Homo sapiens: one gene and its partner. The protein of the gene in region 2 purifies or fractionates together with the protein of the main gene of each other region. This does not show direct contact. Each region holds a gene or a part of one and is shown on either strand. Other genes may lie near its edges.

Region 1 (4,709 bases), on a different chromosome or scaffold from region 2:
TGTGCAAATATGAGGATTATAGCCTTTTTTTAAGGAAGCACTATTCAAACCACTTCTTAAGAACCGATATTCTTGCACTGATGGTTCCATCAGAATTGTTTTGAGCTTAACAGGTTGAAGACAAAAGTCAACAAATCTACTAAATAGGTTTGAGGTCTGATTTTTAAAAATCCTATTTAAATTCCAGATTTAGAGAGAAGAATATGGTGTTATATTGTTTCGCCTATAAAGGCAAAGAAATATTTAATGTCATGCTAATGTTCCAATATCATTTTTCACATTTCTGCAAGGTTAAGGCCATTTTATCAGCTTAGAACCTATATCCAACCTGCTGTAATTTGGCTGGGTTTTTGTGTTTCTGCCACAGACATTTAATCACTCCCAAATCTGTCAAAAAAATTTCTACAATTTCAGAGGTACTTGATATATTTTAGCAAAGATAAGCTACTGGAACTTTTAAAACCAGGTTGCTTTTTGCTGTTTTTTCCAGTGTTGAAAGATAAGATTTCTCTTGCTTTCTGTCTTCATAGACTACTACTGGAGAATGCCACTTTGAAAATTATCAAAGAGTGTGTGCATTAGAGCAGCAAAAGAGTGCAATGCAGACCTTGAAAGGCATAGTCCGGTTCTTGTCCAAGACTGATAAGAGGCTATTGGTAAGTTTCAGTTTTTCAGGTTGTAGTTCCTGCTTTCCAACAGAGAAGTGAGACACTTAAAATCAAGTCAATGGGTTTGAGCTGTCACTTCAATAATAAGAGAGAAGACAAGTTTAGGTAGTATTCTTGCGTGGAAGGAACAAGCATGGTTGGAAAGTTGAGATAGACCCAGGGTCTATCCCATATATAAACATGTTGGCCGGGTGTGATGGCTCACGCCTGTAATCCCAGCACTTTGGGAGGCCGAGGTGGGCAGATCACAAGGTCAGGAGTTCGAGACCAGCCTGGCCAACAGAGTGAAACCCCGTCTCTACTAAAAATACAAAAATTAGACAGGTGCCTGTAATCCCAGCTACTCAGGAGGCTGAGGCAGGAGAATTGCTTGAATCCGGGAGGTGGAGGTTGCAGTGAGCCGAGATCACGCCACTGCACTCCAGCCTGGGTGACAGAGCAAGACTCCATCTCAAAAAGAAAAAAAAAAATGTTATACAGTTTCATTTTTTTATCTAACAAATGCCCACTATTTGCCAACAAGACATTGTTCCAGACCCTTCAGGACACCAAGAGGTTGTCTTCACCTGGGCAGCCTTTGTGGCATGGGTTAATTTTCATTCTTTTCAGCTTAGTGAATGTATGAAAAGAAACTGGAGAAGCATTCATCACCTTGAAATGATCCACGTTTTACAACAAACAAAGAATACGTAACTTAGCAAGACTCTGATTAGGAACATTTTTTAAAAATTCTGTCCCAGAAGATTATGTTAATACAAATAATAAGAACATATGCTGCAGTTTAAATACTTTATTATAATTTAGAAAACAAACATTCATGTCTTGTTTAAAGGTAATTTAAATGCCACTAAGGAAAGCAGATGTTTAATTTCATATTTATGGAAAGATGATTTTCAAAATGCCATTAGAGTATATATTAAATTCTATATAAAATATTTTAAAAATATTTTCCAATGTTGAAAATTTTAATGTAGCACTTTTATATTCCCTTCAAGTACTGCATAAAAGCTGATCCACATTGTTTAAATTTCTTGTGTAATTTTGGGAAAATGGAAAGTGGAAAAGAAGCCAGTGTTCATATCCAACTGGAAGGCCGGCCATCCATTTTAGAAATGGTAAGTAAGTCTAAAACATTGACAACTTGGTGGCTAAGTTTACATAAAATCTATAAATTCAGTCATATAGGCAGGATAGTATGAAGGCATTCAACAAATTAAATTTTAAATAAAATTTTGGAGTAAAACTCTAAAACTGTATTTCTATCACTTCAACTATCTACATTGACTAAGTGAAATGGCTTTAGAAATTAACAGGTAATAAAGGCTAAAATAGGCCAGGCACAGTGGCTCATGCCTGTAATCCCAGCACTTTGGGAGGCCAAGGCAGGAGGATCACTTGAGGCCAGGAGTTCGAGACCAGTTGTATTCCTAGGTAGATGTCTGGTGTTATTTCTGAGGTCTCTGTTCTGTTCCATTGGCCTCTGTATCTGTTTTGGTTAGCCTTGTAGTACAGTTTGAAGTCGGGTAGCCTGATGCCTCCAGCTTTCTTTTTGCTTAGGATTGTCTTGACTATATGGGCTCTTTTATGGTTCCATAGGAAATTTAAAGTAGTTTTTTCTAATTCTGTGAAGAAAGTCAATGGTAGCTTGATGGGAGTAGCCTTGAATCTGTAAATTACTTTGGGCAGTATGGCCATTTTCACGATATTGATTCTTCCTATCCATGAGCATAGAATATTTTTTTCCATTTGTTTGTGTCCTCTTATTTCCTTGAGCAGTGGTTTGTAGTGCTCCTTGAAGAGGTCCTTCACATCCCTTGTAAGTTGGATTCCTAGGTATTTTATTCTGTTTGTAGTGAATGGGAATTCACTCATGATTTGGCTCTCTGCTTGTCTATTATTGTATACGAATGCTTGTGACTTTTGCACATTGATTTTTGTATCCTGAGACTTTGCTGAAGTTGCTTATAAGCTTAAGGAGTTTTGGGGCTGAGACCATGGAGTTTTCTAAATATACAATCATGTCACCTGCAAACAATTTGACTTCCTCTCTTCCTATTTGAATACCCTTTGTTGCTTTCTCTTGCCTGATTGCCCTGGCCAGAACTTCCAATACTGTGTTGAATAGGAGTGGTGAGAGAGGGCATCCTTGTCTTGTGACGGTTTTCAAAGGGAATGCTTCCAGTTTTTGCCCATTCAGTATGATATTGGCTATGGGTTTGTCATAAATAGCTCTTATTGAGATATGTTCCATCAACACCTAGTTTATTGAGAGTTTTTAGCATGAAGGGATGATGAATTTTATTGAAGCCCTTTTATTTTAAAAATATAGCTAAGAAGAAAAACTAAGGCTTTCATAAAATCAAATAAAATCAAAATTCAACAACAAAAACATATTTAAATTTTAAAAATAATGAAATATATCTTGGACTTTTTCCTACAAAGGAGCATGTATATTTATGAGGAGTAGTTTGAGATGAAACTAGTTTTATGTGGAGTTCTGTTTTTCAGCTTTCTCATCTGTTCAATATGGATAAATGAGATGATTTTTATAAGCACTTAGTTCATGGAACATAGGAAGCCAAAGGAAATGGCAGCTGTTATGTTCAAGTGGAATTCTTGAAATTGCCAAACAGTGCTTAAGAGGAAGATACACTAGACAGGCAAAGAAGAAATATCCATTTTAGTTTCAACTGTGCTAAAAGCAAAGTCATTGAACCATCAGCAAGTCATTTAACCTTTTGCAGTTTGCCTTATCTTTTTCTCTAGGTCTAGGTTTTCCATCAGTGGCCATAATTGGCATTTTGAACCAGATAATTTTGTTTTGGGGGGTTGTCCTGTGCATTGTAGGATATTTAGTATCATCCTCAGCCTCTATACGCTCACTGCTGGTAGTACCACCTCCCACGTTCTGACACTTGACAGTTTCTTTAGACATTCCTGACTGTCCCTTAGGTGATAAAACCCTCCCTGCTGAGAACCACTGCTCTAGATCTATAGGAAGCTTGTCATTTTTGGCTCTAAAATGTTAAATAACATTTACACAATAGTTTTAAAGGTCATATCCCTCTTTAAGAATCTGACTAAATATATTCTCATCTCCCTCAGCAAATGCACACATGAAAACATCTCCTAAAGATTCTTAGAATTTATAAAGCCCTTCTACAGATCCCCAAGCTTCATGGATTCTGCGTTATAAAATCCTTGCTTTAGATAGTAAAGTTCTGAGTTCATCCACTGATTTTATATTTGAATTCTATAATGTATTTAATTTAGAAAGAAATAAAAAGCCCAAATAAGATAGATTCAATATGCGGTGGTGGGGTGGAGAACAATGGTAAATGGTAACTTACCTCTTTCTGTAGTCTAATATTTAAATCAAGTTATTTGCAAGGTAGCTGTTTAATCAAAGGATTTCAATAAAATGATACTATATAAATTAATACCAAGACCACACTTTGGGAACCAAAGGAGGCACTGCAGTTAATTTTAAGTGGTGAAATAAATTGGGGAAGGTAAATTGTGAAAACCTCTAGCTAGAAGGTAAAGATCCTGATAAATTATGTCTTTATGAAATAAACCAGGCTATGGTGATCCTTCTTTTATTAAACAGGATGAGACTTCAGCACTCAAGTTTGAAATAAGAGCAACAGGTTTTCCAGAGCCAAATCCAAGAGTAATTGAACTAAACAAGGATGAGAATGTTGCGCATGTAAGATTACCCTCTTAACTGCTACATTAAAATTATAGGAAAACACATTTCAAGGGTGTCTATAATTACTTCCTTCTGAGTAACTGAGTTGGGAAAGTAGAGTGTGACCAGCTCATGGAGGGCCCCCAATACTTGGTTGAGAGTTGGCATTTTCCACAACTGGCAGGAGGGAACAATACAGCAGTTCTTTCAGAGAGGTGAATTGGGCAGCAGTGAGAATTGAATAGATTGGAGGAAAAGTCATGGATACAGCCCATTACACTCACTGTTTCTGCTAAACAGTTACCAGTGTTTCCTGCAATTATATTAGAACCAGCAAGAAAATGGGCTGG
Region 2 (5,434 bases):
AGGAAGCTTCTGCAAATGCTGATGTTTAATGACCTATTCTACTTGAGGAACCTGGACAGTGAGGATTTTCTAAAATGCCAAGTCATAAAACCTCAGACACTTGCAAAATAAGAGAACAAATATGCACGGAGCTGCTCAGCCACTGATATGTCAACTCCTGGGAACAGCTGGTGTCCACGGGGGAGGGGGCAGCATGTGGCCAGGCATGTGAGTGGCTTCCACTCAGGAGAGCCCCTCTGAGCAGGTCTTGTTCAGGAGTTCAAAATATGTCTTCCAGGGCATGGTTTCAACAGTGAAGAAGCAGCTGAAGGTCCGAGGGAACAAACAGGAAGAGACAGTAGGGCGGGGTTTGGGGAGGTTCGGGAATCTTGTGGCATCTGCCCTCAACACAGGTTCCATCTCCACCTTGCCCATTCCTGGGGCCAGCAATTGTGCCACGTGGCTCTGGCCTTCAGGTCTAGCCTGAGCCTGAGGCCAATCCTGAACTACAACGTGATTTGAGGCTCCCTCCCTCCTTAGCCAGGGTCACTTGTGCCATGCCTCCTCCTCCAGCCCGTGCCCCTCAGGGGAACCCCAGGCTGTCCTGGTGTGATCCCTGCATCCAAGAGCAGCAGGAGAATGTTTTGTCCCAGTGGAAGCAGTTCCCAGACTTAGGCAATTAGTTACCTATTTGTTAATCTTACAATAAGGGGGTTGACTAAGAATGGGAAGTTTTCCCAGAGCCAGGCTTTGCTTGGAGCTCGTCCCCTAGAGCAGGTGCTGCAGCTCAGCAGGGCCTAGGAGCGAGGGCAGTGGGGCTTCTTCTCAGCCTCCACCACTTTTGGGTCTAGGGCAGGGTAGGGAAACCCTGAGAAAAGTACCCACAGACATTGTCACCATTGTCTCCAGGCTCTTTCTCTAGAAGGCAGGGAAGAAGTGGGGAGGAAGACCAGAGAGAAGGTTCTGAAGGCCATGTGGCCCAGGTGCAGGCAGCTGCAATGGTGTCAGAGGGCAGAATCAGGAAACTCAGATTGGCCAGGGGCCTGAAAGTGAACCCCTGGGCTTAATGCCTCACTGGGCTTCCCACTAAGGCACAAGCAGGGCAGCCTGGTACAGCCTGCTGTGGGCTCACTTCCCTTTGTCCCTCGGAATGGCTTTGTCAGCTGCTCCTGTGCCCACACCACACCCCATGCAGCATCCACAGCTGTGGACCTGAGGAAAGCTGATGCCCTGTCTTACGTTGTTCAGCTCCAGGCTTTCTTGAAAAGGGCAGTTGTCAATGTCATCTTCAAATTTCCTACATACGGTTTGGCGCAGTTGCAGATTCATGGAGAACACCATCTTACCTCGCCACTGTTGGACAAAAGAAGATTAAAGTGGATGCACCGTCTTCCTGCCCCTAAGTAGCTACTAGTGAAGATGCCATTTGAGTAGGAGAGGCCCCAACACTTTACTGCATTTGAGAGCTTGCCCATGGGCCTGGCATCAGCTCACTGGAGGTGAAACCCAGGGGATCTTCTCTAGACTGAGGAGTTAAGAGCAAAAAGCAGGTGGGCATGGTGGGTCTGGGGAGGATGCAGGCTGAGTCAGACCCCACTAACACATTATCCACCTCCACCCACCCCCATTTCCCACGGTGAGACTCCAGCTTCACTCTCAGTAGGCATCTGATCTTGCAGCTGCATTCCCAGAGGACAGAGCCACATGTCCGGGAGGGTGTTGGATCTCCAAGAGTTTTCAGGGTAACTTCAGCCCTGGGACAGAGGGAGCCTCATCTACAGTGTGTTGTCAAACCTTCCAAGTGACCTCCAGCAAGAAGAATGACACACAGCGCTCCCACTACACACAGGCACACACCCTGGGAAAATGGGTTCAAGAAATACCATCTGCCCTATTGCAAAGTGCATGCTGAAGTTCTCCTTGCCCTCCTTCCCACTCCATTCTATTTAATTCCACTCCATAGCCTCCCTCTCACCCATCTATTCTTCCCAGCCCCCAAACTGATGCTGGGATTGCCATATCCAGGAAGCCATGTGGAAAGCTTTTAGGACTTACTGTCATTTAGGACTTATAGACCATAGTAAGGAGCTTAGATTTTATTCTAACGGTATTAAGAATGGAGGCTTACACTGAGGTCTTGGAGAATCAAGCAAAGCACTGGGAAAGCAGAAGCATGAGGCCTGGCCAATCTCAATCTCTGAGACTTCCAAGGTTCCAGCATGAATATTAGCAGCCACCATTACTGGACCAGATGCCCCTCTGAGGGTTGCATCAGGCTTTTAATTCTCCTGAGAGGAGGCAGCAAATGAGCAAGGAGGAAAATTCCTCTGTACCAGCATTGGAATCCTGAGGATGGCAGTGAGGAATCCACCCCAGGAGGCAGAGAACCAGCCAGAGCCTTGCACAGAGTCTTTCCAGAGCTTAAGCTCTGTGCGGTACTAGAGTCCCTCTGCCTTTCTTTCAGGCTCTTGGTGCTGAGAAAGGAAGAGCAATGCTCCTTCTCTCTCTAAACCAGAAGTTCTCCACTAGGAGGGCATTTTAATTGTTCATGCCTGAAGCCCAGATGAACTGTGCATTCCTGACCACATTTAATGATTTCATCAAAAAGGCAAGCATTTTAGGATAAAGGTCCATTGAGGAAGAGTGTAAATTGGCCTTCAGTTCATTAAGTGCAGACAGAGCAAGGAGCCCAGAGAAGGTGGAGATCAGAGAACTAACCTTTCACGGTGGCCTCTCAGGGCTGATGGTGTTCTTTATTGCCCTCGAATTCTCACTGTTCTCTCTCTGTCTGCCTGTCTCTCTCTCTCTCTGTCTCTCTCTCTCTGTCTGTCTGTCTCTCTCTGTCTCTCTCTCTCTCTCCCTCTGTGTGTCCTTGCTTTTCCATTTTCATTTTATGACCTGGAAATGTTTATCAGTCTCTTTGGTTATTTTCTCTTCTTGTCAGCTTCATCTCCTTAGAAGTCCTTATTTTGAAGTCACTCTTCAGTTATACAATGTCTTAAAAATCATGAAGATTGAAAAATATATTTTGCATGTGAATAGACATTTACCTAATTTAAAAAAAATTTTAAGTTCAATGTTTTCCAAAACTAAAACTACCGTAATTGGTTGTGGACTACCTGACTATGGACTGCTGATGGTGAACCAAGTCTCCTAGACTAGACATCTTGGTCCCTCACTTAGGGGCAGATGGAGAAGGACAGGCCAGAAGAGGATGTGGTCACCAACCTTTCTGTCCATGCTATCCTCCCTCCATGAACTCAGGACGCGCAACAGCCTGTAGGCATGCTCCTCCTTGCTCTGCACGTTGAAAGTGTTCAAGGCAAACTCCACTGTGGCGAGGAACATAGGATCCTGGACTATTTTATTATTACCACCCATTTCCTCTTCAGAACACCAGGCATAAGTCACCAGGAGCTGGAAGCCCATGAGAAGCAGTGACAGTGCCCAGGGCATAGCCTTCCTCCTCTGCGGACTCGACATGATGCAGGCTCCAGCAGCCCTTGCCTTTGCCCTTCAGATCCCTGGCGTCCACTGGAGCCTTCCAGGGCTCAGGTCTGGCCTTTAAATTCACCTGCTGGGGCAGAAACTCCTCCCTCCAGGCCTCACCTCTGCAGTTACACCCTGTCTCTCCCACACATGGCCTCCCTTCTTCCAAAGGCGTTTAAATCATCTCCTGTTTAGGGGAGAGGAACAGCACCCAGGCAGGTGGGTTGGAAAAGACTAGCAATGGGAGAGATAGTGCCCTGAACATGAGGCCCAGCCCCAGCTGCCCCAGCACCTCCGCAGGCTAAAGGAGACCTCTACTGGGCGCCCCAGAGTCAGAGCCCGGCACAGGAACACAAGTGTGAGAGGTATGAGTGGAAGGTGAGCCCTGGACTCAGCAGTGGGGGTGGGCTGGGAGGGGGAGGTTAGGTGGAAAGGCAGAGACAAAAGGATGGAAAGGGATGACAGTGGATGCTAGTATCATGGGTGAGCAGGTACAGCGCCCCGAGAAAGCACTGGGCCTCTTGAGAGAGAGGCGGGGAGCCCGGGAGGATTGGCGGGATGTCCTGCAGGTGTCTGCTCCCCCGAGGGTCTCGGGAGGGGGGCACCAGCCTGGGGGTCGTGGGCAGAGGTTGAGGAAATCAAGAGCAGGAGCCCCCAACCCTGTTCTCTGCACCTCCCTAAATGCAGCTTCCCAGCCCAGGGACGCGCTGCCAAGTGCTGGTACTAGGGGCCTGGCTAGTTATGGCTGCCCCTATTCCTCAAAGGTGTTTCCAGGACGGGTGGCCGCTTGCAATTGGAGCAGTGGAGAACCAGAAAGACGAAGATGCCCTCAGGGATGGCTGAAGTGCACCCATTAGGTTGTCACGGGTTCCCTCCTGTGGCCACAGCCGGCACAGCACTCTGCGGCACAGTTTGTGGGTGGAGATTCTGAGTTCTCGACCAAGACCCACATAGCCTCCAACTCCAACCGCAAATGGGGCTCTCAAAAGACTGAATAATGCACTCTTCACAGACCAGACTTAAGCTTTGTCCCTGTGAAATATGCCTTTGATGTTTATCCGTAGCTCCTTGTAAACTTCAGAAGCAACCAGCATCCCCTGATGTCACGTTAAAAAGCAAGTTCCTAGTTTCCCCACCCAAAGATTCTGACCCAGTAGCTGTGAGCAGGGCCAGGGAAACTACATTTCTCACCAGCTTCCAGAGGATGGTTGTGTTCCCGGTCTCAGAACCATACTTTGAGTGGTGCAGGTTCAGAATACTTCCTGGGAAGTGCATACAGACCAAACCACATATGAGAAGTAACTCAGCTTGAGGGGCATGGAGGTCAGGGGATGAGAATGGCTTTTGTGGGGCACACAGGATGGGGGACAGGCTTAGACAGCATGCCTGGTGATAAAGAATAAGAGTTTGTTTCTAGACCCTGTTTGCAAAGAAAAAGCAACTCAATGTGACAATTCCAGGAAAGCAGCCAGATGTGCCAAAAACATCACCCAAGGAGTCTGTATCCTTTCTCTGATGGCGTTGAGTTCACTGGAACTGCAGCTGAAGCGTAACTAATGTGGTTTCTTAGCTGGAGAGTGATGGTGCACGTAGGGGTAGGAAGGGGGTGTCAGTGAGGGCGGAAATGCCTTTGTGGGTTTTGGGATGAGCAGGCCATAAGGTGCTGTGAGAACTAGAATCCTGATGCCTGGAATAGGTTGCGAGTGTCCTGAGAGAGGCCTGCAATGCCCATGGAGGTCACTCTCACCTTGTAAGTTCAGCGGCTGACAAACTTGGGGCATCCTGCCAATTGCCAGTGGCTCCCCCACCATTCTGAGGGCCGATACCCACATGTGCTCCAAGGGAGTGCCCACACTCACTCTTACATGAGCAGTGGTTTAGGGTCCTGGGCACCAGCTCTGTCCTCACTGTGCAGCCAAGGAGGGGACAGGGATCCCCACACCCAGATGTGAGACCACGGGTGTAC

The links. Proteins that work in one complex are often made in the same cells at the same time.
Region 1: the proteins of CST9 (region 2) and ITGA4 purify together in Homo sapiens (affinity purification with mass spectrometry; 3 studies listed by BioGRID and IntAct, with this or other methods). This does not show direct contact.

The regions. Positions count from the first base shown.
Region 1 is NC_000002.12:181,529,994-181,534,702, forward strand, and holds part of ITGA4 (integrin alpha-4 isoform 1 preproprotein), read left to right. Parts: intron 1-530; coding exon 531-656; intron 657-1,663; coding exon 1,664-1,783; intron 1,784-4,278; coding exon 4,279-4,377; intron 4,378-4,709. UniProt on the Homo sapiens protein: Integrins alpha-4/beta-1 (VLA-4) and alpha-4/beta-7 are receptors for fibronectin. They recognize one or more domains within the alternatively spliced CS-1 and CS-5 regions of fibronectin. They are also receptors for VCAM1.
Region 2 is NC_000020.11:23,602,403-23,607,836, forward strand, and holds CST9 (cystatin-9 precursor), read right to left. Parts: upstream 3,516-5,434; 5' UTR 3,463-3,515; coding exon 3,208-3,462; intron 1,333-3,207; coding exon 1,108-1,332; 3' UTR 8-1,107; downstream 1-7. UniProt on the Homo sapiens protein: May be involved in testis development. May play a role in hematopoietic differentiation or inflammation. Has immunomodulatory and antimicrobial functions against Francisella tularensis, a Gram-negative bacteria.